Linked DNA regions of Homo sapiens: region 1 is linked to region 2. The links come from fine-mapping of genetic effects on gene expression. Tissue or cell type: whole blood. Region 2 holds a variant in brackets; the other region holds the start of a gene. All regions are shown on one strand. Distances are from middle to middle. Region 1 holds the start of LMBRD1 (LMBR1 domain containing 1). Region 2 has its middle 140 kb from the start of LMBRD1.

Region 1 (9,179 bases), 140 kb before region 2:
CTCTTTCCTGCCAGAAGTGAGGGAACAGCCTCTGCCTCCCAACAACTCTCCTCAGGCCCAAGGGTGAGAGATTTTTGCCCCTAGAAAGCAGGGTTTACAAGAAGAAAGTGTCCACAGTTACCACTGCTGCCCACCTGGCGTCCATCTTCCTTCCAGAGATCAGACAGTAAACAAAGGATGATAAGGCCCCTCAAAAAGGAAACTCAATGTCTTCAGATCTGTCTACATCCTTGATCTCCAAAGTTTAGGTATGGAGGAAATAGATTAAAGGTGAACTTCTTATTTTGCTATTTGCTATTTGGCCTTGGCCCTAATGGTCAGGCCATGGCTGTTTCCTCCTGTGGCATGGCGGACTGCGTAATTTAAGCACCAATCACATGCACACATCTACATGCATTTTGGTATAACTCACCACCATCTAACAAGAGATCCAACTTTAAATAAGGGGAAAATGAAATCTGTACCTGTCGGGTGCTTTCTGTTTGCAGGTAACTAGTAATCAACCTGTCATTGAATCCTGACATCCCATTCATACTGGGTACATATATTACTTAGCTATTGTATAACAAACCATGCAAGACTTCCTAGCTCATGATGGAGTTGCTCAGCCATTTGGGCAGGGCTCAACTGGGCCATTCTTGTGGGCTCAGGTGGGCTCCTTCAGGCATATGTGATCAGCTGCTGTTGACTAGGCGGCTCTGCTTCTGAGTGTGAGTTGGCTGTCAACTGGAGCAGTTTGGCTCTCCTCCCCATGGTATCTCATTCTCCAGCAGGCTAACATGGGCTTGCAGTCATGGAGATGGTAGGGTTCTCCAGAAATGGGACATTTCAGCAAATTTTGACTGTCCTCAAGATCCTTAGGGGAGTCTTTTTCCTTTCAGCTCCAGAACCCTCTCACTGGGTCCTGACTCTGGGCTCCCTTTCTTACCTCCAGGTGAGCAGGAGACCTGGATCCTGGTCCCCAGAAAAAACGGAGGCCCCAGGGCTTCCATGGAGGAGGGTCAGATTTTTATTTTTACTTGTCTGCATTCTAACTATGAATTCTCCCTTATATGCATAATTAAAAAGGGATTCAAGAATTTATTATATAACTCTTAGACCCCTCAGACAAATAAAATTTCTACAAATGTATTAGCAAGAGGAGAAGATTCATAAACAGATTTATTTAATGAGAACTGTTGCTGACCTGTGGAATTCCATCCTTAACTCCAAAGAGTGGTGTATTTGTGGGTGAGGTGGAGGGGTGGGTGGGTTGGAGTGGGGTGTTACCTTCTAACCCTTAGCCTAGTAAGGGAGGCCTCAAGGGAGCTACTTGGAGAATTTGAAATATGGCCCCTGAAATTGAGGACACAGAGGGCTAGTGTCTGACCCAGTAGAGAGAACTACAGTGGACTGTAGCATCAGGGGCTGACTTTCTTGGGTATAATCAAAAAGGGCTGATTCCTTTGATTGTAGAACTAGGAGAATGGAGCTACATTGGGATTGGCCTGTGCTCCCAAAGTTGTTGGTGCAAGGTATGTATCATCATTCCTACAGAGGGGATTTAGACTATTTGGGGAAAGGGGAAGAACTGGCTTGGGGTTGTCTTAGGCCTCTCCTCCAACTTAAATGAGCTTCTAGAAGAAGATTACAAGACCTCAGCAGGAAAAGGAATAATTAAGTATACCTCAGTATGCTCTGGGGCTTGTGGAGGAGATATAAGTGACTACCTGTCAGTGGCTCAAGTCCCTGCAAGTTTGTGTCTTTCCACAGTCAGACTTTTGTTGATGCTATTTCAATCATAAAAGCCATGAGCTGTATGAAGGTCCGAAGGAGGTAATTTTCCTTAGTAGTACCCATTCATTTGGTAGTCAGAACCAAGGACACAAAGCTCTAGCCACTCCACAAGTCAGTCAATATTGCAAACCAAACATAGTAGTATACATAACATATAAATATTATAGGCTAAACATTCTAAAAGAAAATAACATTTAACATCAAGAGAAAGGTTAGGAAAACAGGATTAACCAATCCAAGGAGAGCAACATGGACAAGGAGAGTGTCCTCGGCTGATCAGGATGCATATCAACATTTTGCAAGGAAGAGTCTTTGATTTGAGCAGAACCTTTGGTGGCAGATGCTAGATGCTGATCATGAGTGACAGTAAGACAGTGTCTGTTAAGATGGCTATCTTGAGCTGTTGAAGTTCTACTCTTTTTATAGCCTCAGAGTCCTCTGGTGTTGACTGATAGTAAAGAGTGTGCCTGCAATAGCAAATACTTGGAACCAACTGAAATGTCCATCAGTGATAGACTGGATTAAGAAAATGTGGCACATATACACCATGGAATACTATGCAGCCATAAAAAAGGATGAGTTCATGTTCTTTGTAGGGACATGGATGAAGCTGGAAAACATCATTCTCAGCAAACTATTGCAAGGACAGAAAACCAAACACCACATGTTCTCACTCATAGGTGGGAATTGAACAATGAGAACACTTGGACACAGGAAGGGGAACATCACACACTGGGCCCTGTTGTAGGGTGGGGGAAAGTGGGGAGGGATAGCATTAGGAGATATACCTGATGTAAGACTAGTTAATGGGTGCAGCACCTCAACATGGCACATGTATGCATATGTAACAAATCTGCACGTTGTGCACATGTACCCTAGAACTTAAAGTATAATAATAATAATAATAATAATAATAATAATAATAAAAGAGTGTGCCTGGTTATGTCGTTATCTGGTTGGGTGCAGTCTCTATTGATTAGGTGAACATCTGGTCCCTTTTGGCATGATTCCTTTTGAAATGTAAACAGAATCTTTTTCTAAGAAGTAGTTACTTATGTCAAGGGTGCTCTATACAATCTGGAATAGAGATATCAACCTGGAAGCGATACCTCTCTTCACTTTAAGGAAGCTATGACAGAGGTCTCCAGGGATATGAATTATTAGGAAGAAAGAGTGAAATTCAAACATTTGCAGGTCTAGAGGGCTTAAAGCCAGCTTATGATGGTACCAGTTCAAGTTAAAACTGTATTCTCCCCTATTCCCTTCTTATTCTGTCCAGGCAGGAAGGACCATCCTATTTTTTCCCTCAGGCTTCCAGCCGGAAGTAGATTATAGGTAGAGCATAACTCATCACCACATAATACATTGGAAAAAGATGATGGTATTTTTTCTCAGAGTTGTTTCTTGACTACATCACAGTGGTGAAACATGCACTCACACCCCTGTGGACTCAGGTAAGCCATCCCAAGAGTTTCCTCCCTGTGGACTCAGGTAAGCCATCCCAAGAGTTTCCTCCTTCTTCTTCATTGTGGGCCTATGGCAGTGTGTTTTGTTTGCTGATGCATATACCTTTACATACAAAGCTATCATGGAAATTCACAGGCATGCATACATCTGAATAGAAAGGCTATAACATCATGTGATAAGTTCATGTCCAGCCAACCAGTTATCCCGGCTGGGCACCAGTGCCAGTAAATTAGAGTGATTTGGGCAGCTAGTCAACTTTTATTCAGAGTCAGCTGTCTCATGCGTCCGTGTGAAGAGACCACCAAACAGGCTTTGTGTGAGCAACATGGCTGTTTATTTCACATGGGTGCAGGCGGGCTGAGTCCGAAAAGAGAGTCGGCAAAGGGTGGTGGGATTATCATTGGTTCTTACAGTTTTTCGGATAGGAGGTGGAGTGAAGAGCAATGTTTTGGGGGTAGGGGGTAGATCTCACAAAGTACATTCTCAAGGGTGGGGAGAATTACAAAGAAACTTCTTAAGGGTGGGGGAGATTATAAAGAACATTGATCAGTTAGGGTGGGGCAGAAACAAATCACAATGGTGGAATGTCATCAGCTAAGCTATTTTCACTTCTGTGGATCTTCAGTTGCTTCAGGCCAGCTGGATGTATACGTGAAGGTCACTGGGGATATGATGGCTTAGCTTGGGCTCAGAGGCCTGACATCAGCCATTCTTGCAACCTGGTAAGGAGTTCTGCTAATCACACACATTCCACCTTGTACACGAGGGCCAAACTTCCTTTTGGTGAAGAAGTATAAACCTCTAAAATTGACTTGGATCTCCAGGTCCACCTAGCCCATTCTTTGTGGAGTTCCCTTGCTGTTCTAGTCTATCAACTTAGGCTGAGTCAAATATCTCAATAGGTTGCCCAGCTATGAGCCAACACCCTGCTCTGCAGCCCTCCCACATCTCAGCTTGCAGGGAAGCCAGCGAGGGCAGCGTGGTGATGTCACTGCGTCCGCACGCGCCCCGCCCCTGAGCAGTCCTTGCTGCCCCGCCCCCGCTCGGCTCGCCGCCAGGGGACGCTAGTGGGTCCAGTCTCCTTGGCAACCACTTGCTCCTCCCCCTCCGCCCCTTTAACCTTTAGGGTGCGCGGGTGCAGTATATCTCGCGCTCTCTCCCCTTTCCCCCTCCCCTTTCCCCACCCCGGGCGCTCAGGTTGGTCTGGACCGGAAGCGAAGATGGCGACTTCTGGCGCGGCCTCGGCGGAGCTGGTGATCGGCTGGTGCATATTCGGCCTCTTACTACTGGTAGGGGAGGCGCTTGGAGTTTTCCCCATGTTTGGACTGGGGGAGGAAGGGAGGGGCAGGCCCTGCAGTTGGCCTCTCCGGGCCCCGGAGACCCTCTTCGCCCCGCCCCGCTTTTAGCTTGGACTGTGGAGGGCTCCTTAGTGTTGGGGGCTTGGGCGGGCGGCGGGGGCAGGGGGGTGTCGATTTCCGGTCTCTTTTGCTGTCATTTCACCGATGACGTCTAGGGTTGCAGGGTCCTTTTTGGAAGCTCTTGCCGTCATCGCTGACTTGGGCAATGGGGCCGGTGGGGTTTGGGGGCGGAAGAGACCCTCGGGGTTGAGAAGTATGTGGTGGCCTTTCGTCCCCTGTAAAACATTGTCACACGGTGTGGGGCGGCAGCGCTGGATCTTTGCAAGTTAAGTAGGCGCTGGCGTTGTTTACTTGTCACCTTCTCTGTATGTTTTTTCCCTCATTTTCCCTACCCTTGGGGCTAGTGAGTCTCCAACCTCTGTGCCCATTGTGTGATTCTGCCTTGATGACGTGAGTTGCTCGTTCTGACTTCCAGGTGTCACATTCTCTTCTAATCTTTTTTTGATTGGTGTAGATACCTGTGGAGGGCGGAGCTGTAGCCCTCTTTATTACCAGTATCGGAGTATATACTACTACCTGTCTGACCTCAGGTGCTTTCTTTTCCAACGATCTTATTTCTGCATATTCAGTGAGCAAAGTGTAGATAGAAATGTCTCAGAGTGGCCTGGCTATTACTTCCCTGTTCATATTAAAACCCTTTGGTTTATTTGGGAGTTCAATTTATTTCCTTTCATAACTTCTCTACCTTCTCAAATCTTCTCTTTTCTCATCGTCCGAGGCTGTAGTTACTTTCTGTTCTCACGTATTTTGACCTTTTTGCATTGCAAAACAAAAACCTCCAGTTCTGGAAATCAGGCTTGTTTGGTTTTACTTTAATTGTCAGATCCAGTTGGTGTCTGGTACCTATGTAGTATGTTCTAGTAGATTTTTGCAGTAGAGACTAAAAAAAGAAAATAAAAGAAAAGAATGGTGTGAAAATTTAAGAAAAGGATCCTCTTGTTACTGCCATCACTGTCACAGATAAAAACACTGCCTTTACCCTGGAACATGTTAGTCCTCTCTTGGAGGAAATGAAACCCTAAAGGTTGACTGTGGTCTCTGCAGCCACCCAGTCCTGTATTTGGAGAGCCCCCTGGCTTTTCCAGTCCATCAGATTTAGTTTGTTTAGAAAAAAATAAATAAGCATGTAATGTATGAAAGTTACGTGAGACTATCTTGGCAGTTATAAATTAATAAACATTTACGGTACAGAAGTGGTGTGAATTGTAAGAGGATGTAAACCAAACAAAATACGGCTTTAAAGAGGGCCTGAAGATAAGTGAGAAAACTGAAATTCTTGAAACATGTATTTTATGGACCGAAAGCCAAAGTGTGACTATAAATAAAGCAGGACTTAAGAGAATAGACAACAATATTGGAAGAAAATGAGAATTGTGGTAGAGTTTGGATAGATGAAGAAGAGAGGCCATTTAAGTTGGCAATATTACAGCAAGGACAAATAAAATCAGAATTGAATGTTGTCGTGGATAAAAGCATTAGGAAGAAGGACTTTTGTTTAAATTTCTGCAAATCTCTTTAAATCCTGGTTTATTAGAAGAAAGGCTGGTTTCTTTTGTTGCCTTCTACATTCAGTCTTTTGGGGTATGTTATTTTAGTCGAAGTGTATGGAGAAAATACAGCTGCAATGATAGGTAGTCAGAAACAGAGGAGCGTTTTTCAGATAATTGTGGATGTTTTTTGACACTACACCAAAGCTCAACAAGTGGAAGATTCATGTCAGCTGCAAGGTGGAATCTGAAACCCTATCAATGAGCATTTCATTCATTGTTACATTAAAATCCATTAGCCCATCTTGCACTTTGAAAGGCTCTTTTACCCATGCATGGTTTTATAACATGATGCCATGGCCACTTAGAAAATGTTGGTTTACTGAGTTATGCACATCTTTTAAATATGGATACGTTTCATTACACAATATCAAAATATCACATTTCATTAAATTACAACTGATCTTGTCAGAAATGTCTCTGAAAATTCTAAGTATTGAAGAGTTGTCAAGCTCATACTTGTGGATGTAAGTCTTTCAAAATCCAATTTTCATTTGAAAGTTTGACTCATAATTATCATTGGTATCAAATACTGTCAGTTTTTCTTTAAGTGATAGATTCCCTTTGTTCATTTGACAAAATCTGCCAAAAAGCGAAGTCTGAATAACCAGTTTGACAATTGTTCTTTCAAGTAAAAATGGTGTTCCTTGAAGAGTGGTTGGTTTAGCTTTTAACTCTAAACTTTTCCTGGAGATAGCCATCACATCTTGGTATGCAGCAGGACTTTATGTACGCATGCTTCATATTTTACCCCACAAAGTATTAAAAAGAGTCAAGGGTTGAATTTCAATAAAATGAATTTATGCTGCTTTGTGAAGCACAGTCTTAATTTAAATTGTCCCTTTTTGAACTTGTGGTGAAGAATACAATGATTACTGGTGCAGTTTGGTGCCACTGTCTTGATTCACGCTAATGCACCAGTAGTTTTACCCACTGTGGCTATGAACCATGAGTGCAAATGTCAGCACAGTGAAAAAGGCAAATAGCATCTTAGTATTTATTATGAGAATAGTTTTCAACTTCTGAATCTCCAGAAAGGATTCTGGGGACTACCAGGGCCTAGGGATTTCACACTTGGAGAACTTCTGCCAATCATCTACTAAATATTCAGGACATGGGCCAGGTGTGGTGGCTCACACCTGTAATCCCAGCACTTTGGGAGGCTGAGGCAGGTGGATCAGTTGAGCTCAGGAGTTGAGACCAGCCTGGGCAGCATGGCAAAGCCCCATTCCTACTAAAAATACAAAAAATTAGCCGGGCGAGGTGGCAAATGCCTGAGGTTCCAGCTACTCAGAAGGCTGAGGTGGGAGGATTGCTTGAGCCCAGGAGGTGGTTTGTGGAGGCAGTTGCAGCAAGCTCTGATAGTGCCTGGGCAACAGAGGGAAACTTCGTCTCAAAAAAAAAAAAAAAAAAAAAAAGATTCAGGACATGAATGTTGCCTACTTTTGTGATCGTGGGCAAAAAGAATGGACTTCAGTTTCTTCACACATAAGGAATTGTTAGATTTGGTATCTCATGCCTGTAATCTAACTATGTCTGTCTTTACTATATCAAATCTAAACTGTTCTATCTAGCTTCAATGTCCTCTGTAATTTGGCTCACACCACCTTTAAATTGTATTTGCCATTACAATAGGAGACTCTCCATTTTTGTAAAGCAAATTTATTCTTGTTCCTTAAAGTGTGGGCATCATCTGGGAACTTGTTAGAAATACCAAATATGTGACCCCAGTCCTACTGAATCAGATCTGCAGTTTAACAAGATCCCATACAGTATGTCATCTATTCTCATTAGTTTAATGAAGATTCATCTCTTCTCATTCCTTCTTCTGCCCCAGTGGTTTGCAAACTTGACCTTTCATCAGAACCACCTGGGGAGTTTTAAAAATCTCAGTGTTCAGACCAATTTATTTTGAATCTTTTGGGAGAAGCTGGGGGGACTATTTGAAACTTTTCTTTATAATTGTTAACAGAGTTATATATTTGTTTCTTTTATCAAATTATCTAATAACTACTACTGTTTGTTAAGCAGTTACTATGGCCAGCCACTATGGTAAACCCTTTATATCTCATTTAATCCTTATAACTTGTTATGAAAGAAGTATTCCTATAGACGAGGATACTTGGTTTTATTTTATATTGTAGTAATGATTGATAACATGAACAAAAAGCTCTTTAAGGTTATCAGTTTTAAAACCATTATAAAGGGATTCTGAGACCAAAAAGTTTGGGAATCTCTGGCTTAACTCTTCTGCCTGGTTGCCGTTTCCTAGCTTGTCTGCCTGATATTGGCAAAATCCTTTGTTTGCAGTAATACCTACAAAATGCAGGTTTTCTTTCATTCTTGAAATCCAATAAAAAATTTATTGGAACACTTTGTGTCAAGTACTGCTGAGGATATAAAGATGAGACTCAGCTTTCAAAGACTTCAGAATGAATTTGGGGAATGTTAAAAATATTTATGAATTCCTTTAAAAACAAGCTCATTCAAATATTAATACAAAGTCACATTTTATGAAAAATAAATTTCCCAAAATCAAGAATTTGAGCCTAGATCCTTTTTGTTTGTTTGTTCCAAAGTCTTAACTCCCTTCTCAGTCAATTCTTTCCTGCTATTCTGTCACCAGTTGAAAGGCCAGCAGTATGAAGCAATGACATGCAGCAACTTGGATGGGTTTTAAATGCACTGTGCCAAATGACACTAGCCAGACTGAAAAGACAACATACTATATGAAGGCATTATGATATTCTAGAAAAGGCAGAAACTATAGGGGCAGAAAACAGATAGTGGTTGTCAGGGTGATACTGGTGGGCTGAGGGAGATCCCCAAACACTGGTGGGATCTCAACCCCAGCTGGTTTTCAGGCTCTTGACACTGTCATGAGAAGACATTAAAGGGCAAGTCAGAAAATAGTGTAAGTGTGGAGATTTATTAAAGGGAAAAGTACACACTCGTGTGGGCATTCTTAAGA
Region 2 (9,179 bases):
ACAGCCCCTAGAGAAGTACTGGAAGACTGTGGAGCCTGGCTGACCCTGGGCCTGGATGCAACTCAGTTGCTTATTAGCTCTGTGATCTGGGGCAATTCGCTCTGAGGATTCTCAATAGTGTATACATATCACCTACTGTAATGCCTTGGCTTTTAGTAGGCATCCAATAAAAGGTAGTTGCTATTATTTTACACATTGGTATTTCTCCAAACAGAACTAATTCTGCCCAACCATCTCTCTATCTTAGTGGTTGGAATAATGGTTTGCTAATTTCTTTCATCCAAGCCTCCCCTCTCCCCTGCATCCTTGGATAAAAATTATGTCTGTTGGAAATGTTTAGTCGTTTAGGCACAGCAGATGTTTTCCATGAAAATAAACTTTGGCAATTGTTTCAAGAGTCACAATTTTTGAGAGTGTAGAGACCTTAAGGAGTCTCTTGTCTGATATTCAATTAATAGATACTGAAGAGGTAGTCTAGCTGTGATATATGAATCTTTCAGGATAAATCTTTCTTTATATTTACAGCAGCATTCCTATGATATTATTTGCCTGAGAACAACAATTTTATAAGGAGTTACAGTTATCAAATGCAGAGCTCTCCTTCACTCAGAAACATGTGGTGAGCTTTTACTGCGTGCCAGATTCTGGATGAAGCTGGAATTACAAAGACTAGTAAGGACCACAAAACAGAATCCTGTCACAACTTTGAGGAAGTCACATCTCATAAGTGGGCTCACTCAAGAGCTCTCAGAAAAGCACAGATGTGATGACTGTAAATGACAGTGTGAGGCCAATAATATCGACAGCCTTCATTGTGAAACCTTCTGTACACATTTGGTTGGTGACATTGTTTCCAGAATCTCTCATCATCTTCACTGCAAATAATTTGTGACCTTCCCTCCAAAGAAGCTCTTTATATCATTGTGAGCCATTTGATCTGTGATGGTGTTTCCCAGCCATCAGCAGGTGTCCTAGACCCCACCTCGTGAGACACATGTATATAGTTTTATTTAAACTCATAGCTGTACCCAACAAGCAAGTAATCAGTCAGAAAAAATTCCTAAATTTTTTCTGACCAGAATGCCAAGTAGGGCTGTTTATTCCACCTCATCGAGAATCAGACATGAAAGAAGTAAGGATTTTTGCAAACAAATAAGCAAAAATCCTTTTAAGTACAAAAAACTTTGGATAAACACTGTCAAAGGTAAAGGATTGGGAAATATTAATACTGGGCTTTGACTTACAATGTTAGGATTTTAAAAATAAATATTTACAGGCAGTAAATAGATTCCTTCATACTAGAGAAGCACACTGCTCCATTAGCTTACCTGCTGAAATCACTAACAGAGCTTCCACTCCTGTTCCCCAATCTCTCTTATCTTCCTCAAGCTGTAAGGCTTTACAATTTGGATATAGTGTAGTTAGTGCATTATTGTAAATAATGCTAAAAACATCACACAAATCCACTTTTTGAAAACATTCTTTTTACCTGAATGTTTAATCTTATTTTTCCATTTTTATTAAGATTTGGAATAAACAATTTTAAAAGGAAAGCATCTATAGTTAAAAGGATCAAAGTGGGGGCAGGATATGCCTTCGTTTTTTTAGAAATTCACTATGAAAACAACTTTTTGGAAATTTAAGTTGTTCAGGGAGACACATCTGGGGTATACATAAGCATCAGTTTATGCTTTTGATAACTTAAAAAGTAATGGAATCTTGCAAACTTGGATAATACTTTCATGTTAGACTTGTACTGTGTCCTCACTTTTGGAAAAAAGGGAAATGCTGGTTGGTATGGTGATTTGATGTTTCTGTGATCTTTCTCATTCTAAATAACTTCAAATTTCTACTTGTGTATGGGATATGCGTGTGTGTGTGTGTGTGTGTGTGTGTGTGTGTGTGTGAAATTTGTATCATTAAAACTAAGTTACATTTACAAGGCAAAGAGGCAGCCTTTGTACTATTTTGGTACTTTGACTTCTGTAGCCTTGTGGTTTCCAAGTTTGGGCCCTAGATCAGCAGCACAAGAAAAGTGAAAAGTGAAGAAAGAAGGAAACTAATGGAGATGATTTATTCAGATGGCTCCCTGAAAAGGCTCCATATTTTCCAGGTTTTTAAAACAGCCCTTCCTTTGTCCTTTCTATTCTATTCAGCTCTCTCTGTTTAATTCTGTGTTTTTGACTCTTTCCAGACTAATAAGACTGTTCTCGGCTTTGACCATCTTCTCTTTTAGTTTGTCTGTTGAAATTTTTAATTGCTTATTATACATATATATTATATATGTATATATTTAAATTTTAATTAAATGATTGAGTTTATACATGATTATATGGTAAATATGTTAAAATCAAATTACAAGTGCTTTTTTTCAGAAAGTCCATTTTGTGTTCTATTTTCTCCTTATGATTTATTTATTTTTTAAACTTTTAGGTTTGGGGGTACATGTGAAGATTTGTTACATAGACAAACACGTGGCATGTGGGTTTCTTGTACATATTATTTCCTCACTCAGGTATTAAGCCCAATATTCAATAGTTATCTTTTCTGCTGCTCTCCCTCCTCCCAGCCTCCCCCCTCAAGTAGACACCAATGTCTGTTGTTTCCTTCTTTGTGTTCATAAGTTCTTATCATTTAACTCCCACTTATAAGTGAGAACATGCAGTATTTGGTTTTCTGTTCATGTGTTAGTTTGCTAAGGATAATAGCCTTCAGCTTCACCCATGTTCCCACAAAAGCCGTGATTTAGTTCCTTTTTATGGCTCCATAGTATTTCATGGTGTAAATGTACCACATTTTCTTTATCCAATCTGTCATTGATGGAAATTTAGGTTGATTCTATGTCTTTGCTATTGGTGGGAATAGGGCTGTAATGAACATTCACGTGCCATGTGTCTTTACGGTGGAATGATTTACATTCCTCTGGGTGTATACCCAGTAATGGGATTGCTGGTCTAATGACAGTTCTTCTTTTAGCTCTTTGAGGAATCGCCATACTGCTTTCCACAATGTTAGAACTAATTTACACTCTCACCAACCATGTATTAGTGTTCCCTTTTCTCTGAAACCTTGCTAGCATCTGTTATTTTTTGACATTTTAATGATAGCCATTCTGACTGGTGTGAGATGGTATCTCATTGTGGTTTTGATTTACATTTCTCTAATGATCACTGATGTTCAGCTTTTTTTCATAAGATTGTTGGCCACATGTATGTCTTCTTTTGAGAAGTGTCTGTTCAAGTGCTCTGCTCACTTTTTCATGGGGTTGTTTTTCTCTTATAAATTTAAGTTCCTTATAGATGCTGGATATTAGACCTTTGTCAGACATATAGTTTGCAAATGTTTTCTCCCACTCTGTAGGTTGTCTGTTTACTCTGTTGATAGTTTCTTTTGCTGTGCAGTAGCTCTTAAGTTTAATTAGATCCCACTTGTCAATTTTTGCTTCTGTTGTGATTGCTTTTGGTGTCTTTCTCATAACATCTTTGCCGGTTTCTATGTCCAGGATGGTATTGCCTAGGTTGTCTTTCAGGGATTTTATAGTTTTAAGTCTGTAATCCATCTTGAATTGATCTTTTACGTGTGGTGTAAAGAAGGGTTCCAGCTTTAGTCTTCTGCATATAGCTAGCCAGTTATCCCAGCACCATTTATTGAATAGAGAATCTTTTCACCATTGCTTATTTCGGTTTACAAGTGTCTTTTGAGGATTTTTGCATTGATCTTCATTAAGGATGTTAACCTGAAG[C/T]TTTTTCTTGTTGATGTTGTTGTGTCTCTGCCAGGTTTTTGGTATCAAGATGATGCTGGCCTCATAGAATGAGTTGGGGAGGAATCCCTCCTCCTCCATATTTTGGAATAGTGCATGTAGGAATGGTGCTAGCTCTTTTTTGTACTCTGGTAGAATTTGGCTATGAATCCATCAGGTCCCAAGCTTTTTTCAGTTGTTAGGCTATTTATTACTGATTCAGTTTTGCAGCTCATTATTGATCTGTTCAGGGAATCAATTTTTTCCTGCCTCAGTCTTGGGAGGGCGAATGTGTCCATGAATTAATCCATCTTTTCTAGGTTTTCTAGTTTGTGTGTGTAGAGGTGTTCAAAGTAGCTTCTTATTTTTTTTTTTTTTTTTTCTGTAGAGTCAGTAGTCACATCCCCTTTGTCATTTCTAATCATGTTTATTTGGTTTTCTTCTCTTTTCTTCTTTATTAGTCTAGCTAGTGGTCTGTTTTATTATTTTTTTTTCAAAAAGCAAACTCTTGGATTCGTTGATATTTTGAATGGTTTTTCATGTCCCAATTTCCTTCATTTCAGCTCTAATTTTTGTTATTTCTCATCTTCTGCTGATCTGTTCTTGCTTCTCTAATTATTTCATTGTGATGTTAGGTTGTTAAGTTGAGATCATTTTAAATTTTTGATATGGGCATTTAGTGCTATGAATTTTCCTCTTAACATTGCCTTATCTGTGTCTGAGAGATTCTGGTATGTTGTATCTTTGTTCTCATTAGTTTCAAAGAACTTCTTGATTTCTGTCTTAATTTAATTATTTACCCAAAAGTCATTCAGAAGCATGTTGTTTAATTTCAATGTAATTGCATGATTTTGAGCAATTTTCATAGTCTTGACCTCTATTTTTATTGCACTGTGGTCCAAGGGTGTGTTTGGTATAAGTTGAGTTCTTTTACATTTGTTGAAGATTGTTTTATGTCCAATTTTGTGGTAGATTTTAGAGTATTTGCCAGGTGATGATTAGAAGAATGTTTATCCTGTTTTTTCCTTGTTTGTTTGTTTGTTTGGGTTGAGAGTTGTGTAAAGGCTTATCGGATCCATTTGGTGCAATGTTGAGTTTAGGTCCTGAATATCTTTGTTGATTTTCTGCCTCAATGATCTGTCTAATAGTGTCAGTGGAGTGTGGAAGTCTCCCACTATTGTTGTGTAGGAGTCTATGTCTCTTGGTAGGTCTCTGTGATGGTTAATACTGAGTGTCAACTTGATTGGATTGAAGGATCCTGAGTGTGTCTGTGAGGGTGTTGCCAAACGAGATTAACATTCCAGTCAGTGGGCTGGGAAAGGCAGACCTGCTTTTAATCTGGGTGGGCACCATCTAGTTAGCTGCCAGTGTGGCTAGAATATAAAGCAGGCAGAAAAATGTGAAAAGATGAGACTGGCCTGGCTTCCCAGCATACATCTTTCTCCCATGCTGGATTCTTCCTGCCCTCGAACATCGTACTCCAAGTTCTTCAGTTTTGGGACTTGGATTGGCTCTCCTTGTTTCTCAGCTTGCAGATGGCCTATTGTGGGACCTTGTGATCATGTCAGTTAATACTTAATAAACTCCCCTCTATTTCTATATCTATCCTATTAGTTCTGTCCCTCTAGAGAACCCTGACTAATACAGTCTCTAAGAACTTGGTTTATGAATCTGGGTGCTCCTGTGTTGGGTGCATATACATTTAGGATAGTTAGATCTTATTGAGTTGAACCCTTTACCATTATGTATTGCCCTTCTTTGTCTTTTTTTTTTAAATCTTTGCTGGTTTTAAATCTGTTTTGTCTGAAATTGGGATTGCAACCCCTGCTTTTTTCAGTTTTCTATTTGCTTGGCAGATTTTCCTACATCGTTATATTTTGAGCTTATGAGTGACATTACATGTGAGATGGGTCTCTTGAAGACAGCATACTATTGGGTCTTACTTTTTTATCCAGTTTGGCACTCTGGGCCTTTGAGTTGAGCATTTAGCCCATTTACATTCAAGGTTAGTATTGACAGGTGTGAATTTGATCCTGTCATTATGATGTTAGCTGGTTACTATGTTGGCTTGTTTGTGTGGTTGTTTTACACTGACATTGGTCTGTGTGTTTAAGTGTGTTTTTGTATTTGCTGATAGTGGTCTTTCCCTTCTAGATTTAGCGTTCCTCTCAAGATCTCTTGTAAGGCAGGTCTGGTGGTAATGAATTCCCACAACATTTGCTTATCTGAAAAGGATCTTATTTCTCCTTCACTTAGAAAGCTTAGTTTGGCTGGATATGAAATTCTTGGTTGAAGACTTTTTTTTTTTTTTAAGAATGTTGAATATAAGCCCCCAATCTCTTCTGGCTTGTAGGGTTTTGGCTGAGAGGTCAGCTGTTAGCCTGATGGGGTTCCCTTTGTAGGTAACATGCCCTTTCTCTCTAGCTGCCTTTAACATTCTTTCTTTACCTTCGACTTTGGAAAATCTGATGATTACGTGTCTTGGGGATGAATGTCTTGCGTACAATCTTGTGGGAGTTCTCTGTTTTTCCTGAATTTAACTGTTAGCCTCTCTAGCAAGGCTGGGGAAGTTTCCATGGACAACATCTTGAAATATGCTTTCCAAATTGTCTGCTTTCTCCCCCTTTCTTTCAGGGATGCCAGTGATTAATAGATTTGGCCTCTTTACATAATCCCATACTTCTTGGAGGTTTTGTTCATTCCTTTTTATTCTTTTTGCTTTATTTTTGTCTGACTGTCTTATTTCAGAGAACCAGTCTTCAAGTTCAGAGATTCTTTCCTCACCTTGGTTTATTCTGCTGTTAATACTTGTGATTGCATTGTGAAATTCTTGTATTGTATTATTCAGCTCTGTCAGAACAGTTAGGTTCTTTTTTATACCAGCTTTGTCTTTCAGCTCCTGTATCACTTTATTGTGATTCTTATTTTCCTTGGGTTGAGTTTTGCTGCCCTCCTGAATCTCAATGATCTTTATTCCTCTCCATATTCTGAATTCTATTTCTCTCATTCTAGCCAGTTCAGCCTGGTTAAGAACTCTTGTTGGAGATTTGGTAAGGTCGTTTGTAGAACATAGGATACTCTGGCAATTTGAGTTACCAGAGTTCTTGTGTTGGTTCTTTCTCATCTCCACATGTGGATGTTCCTTTAATTGCAGCATAGATTGAGCACAGACTGAAGGTCTTAGTGGAGTGGGTTCACAAGGAGATCTCCTGACTGGAGGGTTGCAAAGATCCATCAGAGAAGCGTAGTATTCTGGGGTCACACATTCATTCACTACTGCTTCCCTGGGCAGGAAGTTTTTTTTTCTTCTTCTTCTTTTCTGGATGTTTTCAACAGGCTGAGGTTTTGTGCAGGGTCTTTATTTGAAGCTGACTTCTTGTCTCTGGTTTCAGAGGGGGGTATGTTAGTGAGGTGTTTTTGGTGTTGAAGCTTTGGGGTGTGATCCAGCAGGTGGTGCTTAGACTTATTGGTCAGTTGGTGGACTTTTGCTTAGTTATGTGGCTCCCCTATGTTCTCTCAGTTGCAGCCACGTTCCCTTTCAATGCTCTGAAAGTGTGGATTCCTTTCCTCCTTGAGTGCTGGCTGTAGACTGTGACTTGGAATTCCTGGGCTGCCCACTGCAGCTCTGGGGTGATCTCAGTATTTATGTTCCTTCCCCATCTTGGAGGCAGCGAGCAAGAGACTTTAGTATGATTATGGCCAAGGGGTGTTTGCTTGTCTCCTGGGGGCTCCAACTCAGGGAGATGCAGGTCAGTAATCGCTCAGTGCAATCAGCCCAGGATGAAGGGTCTGTGCTGAGGGCCCCAGCCAAGGTTTTCCTGTCTGGTGTCAAGCGGTGGAGGGTACGTGGGACCCGTGGGAGATGGACTGGCTTCTTCTCCTTGGGTTGGCTGCAGTATGTTGGAGGTGTGGATAATGCACTTTGGGTCTTTGCTCCTTTGATAGTCTGAGGGTGGCAAGGACAGTTCTGCTGCAGAGGCAGTGGCAGAGGAGGCTTTCAGTTGCCCCTGGAGGCTCTGTCCATGGAGTTGCTGAGTTGCTACTGGCTCAATAGCTCTACTGGTGGATCCGGGGGGTGATGGCTGGAAGTCCAGGCCTGGAGAACCTGCCTGGTGAGGAGATAGGGGAATGGGCACCCATATAACAGTCTTTCCACTTTTCTGTAGGGCTGCTGTGGTATGCTAGGGGCCCACTCCAGTCCCTAGTCACCTTAGATTTTCCAGTACCTGGAAGTATCACCAGTGAACCTATGAAACAGCAAAGATGGCAGCCTATCCTTCCCTCTGGCTTTGTCCCAGGGAGGTACAGGCCTGTTGCCATCCCAAAGGTACCTGTAGGAGGTGGGTAGAGATCCTGTTTGGGGGGTCCCACCCAGTGAGGAGGAATGCAATTGGGGACTTACTTAAAAAAGCAGTCTGGCCACATTTTGGTAGAGTACCTGTGCTGTACTGTGAGTCTACTTCAGTCCTCAGTTTCCCCAGACACTCTGAAACCCAAAGGCTGGAACAGCTAAGCTGCCCAAACAGCAAAGATGGTGGCCTGCCTCTCCCTCTGGGAACACTGTCCCAGGGAGAACTCAACTCTCTGTCAGCTGGAGAACACTGGCAGGGGTTGCTGGAGGCCCAGTTTGAGAGGTCCTGCCCAGTGAGGAGAAGTGGATCAGGGACCTGCTTAAAGTAGCAGTCTATGTTTTGGTAGAGCAGCTGTGATGTGCTGAGGGATCCCTTTCACCCCCAGTGGGCTCAGACTCTCTGAAGCCTGAAAGCTGAAACGTCTCAGGCACCCAAACAGCAAAGATGGCAGCCTGGGTCTCCCCCTGGGAGCTCCTTCTTAGGGAGGTACAATGCCACTACTTGTGGCTGGCTGGAATTCCAAGCCAGTGAGTCTCATCTTGTGAGATGCCATGGAAGTGGGGCCTGCTGACTGTCACTGCTCAGCCTCCTGGATTCAGCCTCTTTCCTATGGGTATGTATGGGGGTCTAACATCCCACTTTGCCAGAGTTGCAGCTACTTTTGCCAGAAAGCTCAAGTAGCTAATGCTCCAGGGTCTCCATGCATGCCTGAGTGGCTGCTTTGCTGAGACTCCACATAGCTCTGTCTGTCAGACAGAAGGCCCTAGTGGAGTAGGTTCACAAGGAGATCTGACTGGAGGGTTGCAAAGTTCCATCAGGGAAGCGTGGTTTTCTGGTGTCACACATTCACTCACTACTTTCCCGGGCAGGGGAGGTTCCCCTGGGTCCATGTTGCTTCTGGATGGCCTGTAGTCCTTTTTTGCTTTTCTTCATTCTCCATGGGTCAAGTTGTTTCCTTGATTAGTCCCAATGTGAGTACCTGGATATTTCAGTTGCAGATGTATTTACTTGCCTCTTCCATTCCTCTCTGTGAGAGCCATGCACACTAGCTGCTTCTAGTCGCCCACCTTGGCCACTCTCATCAAGAT

Evidence for each region. PIP is the estimated chance that this variant, and not a neighbour inherited with it, causes the effect.
Region 1: LMBRD1 starts here. The variant in region 2 is fine-mapped to the expression of LMBRD1 in whole blood (INTERVAL, PIP 0.96).

The regions. Positions count from the first base shown.
Region 1 is chr6:69,792,166-69,801,344 of GRCh38, reverse strand. LMBRD1 (LMBR1 domain containing 1) reads left to right here and starts at 4,335. Exons shown (of 16, transcript NM_018368.4): 1 at 4,335-4,532. The coding sequence starts at 4,464. RefSeq lists enhancers at 4,414-4,643, 4,272-4,827, 4,954-5,003, 4,828-5,384.
Region 2 is chr6:69,654,995-69,664,173 of GRCh38, reverse strand. No RefSeq gene overlaps it. Among named protein-coding and RNA genes, the nearest start is that of LMBRD1, 140 kb to the left of the region's middle. RefSeq lists an enhancer at 8,588-9,089. The variant C/T (reference allele first, on the strand shown) is at 3,743.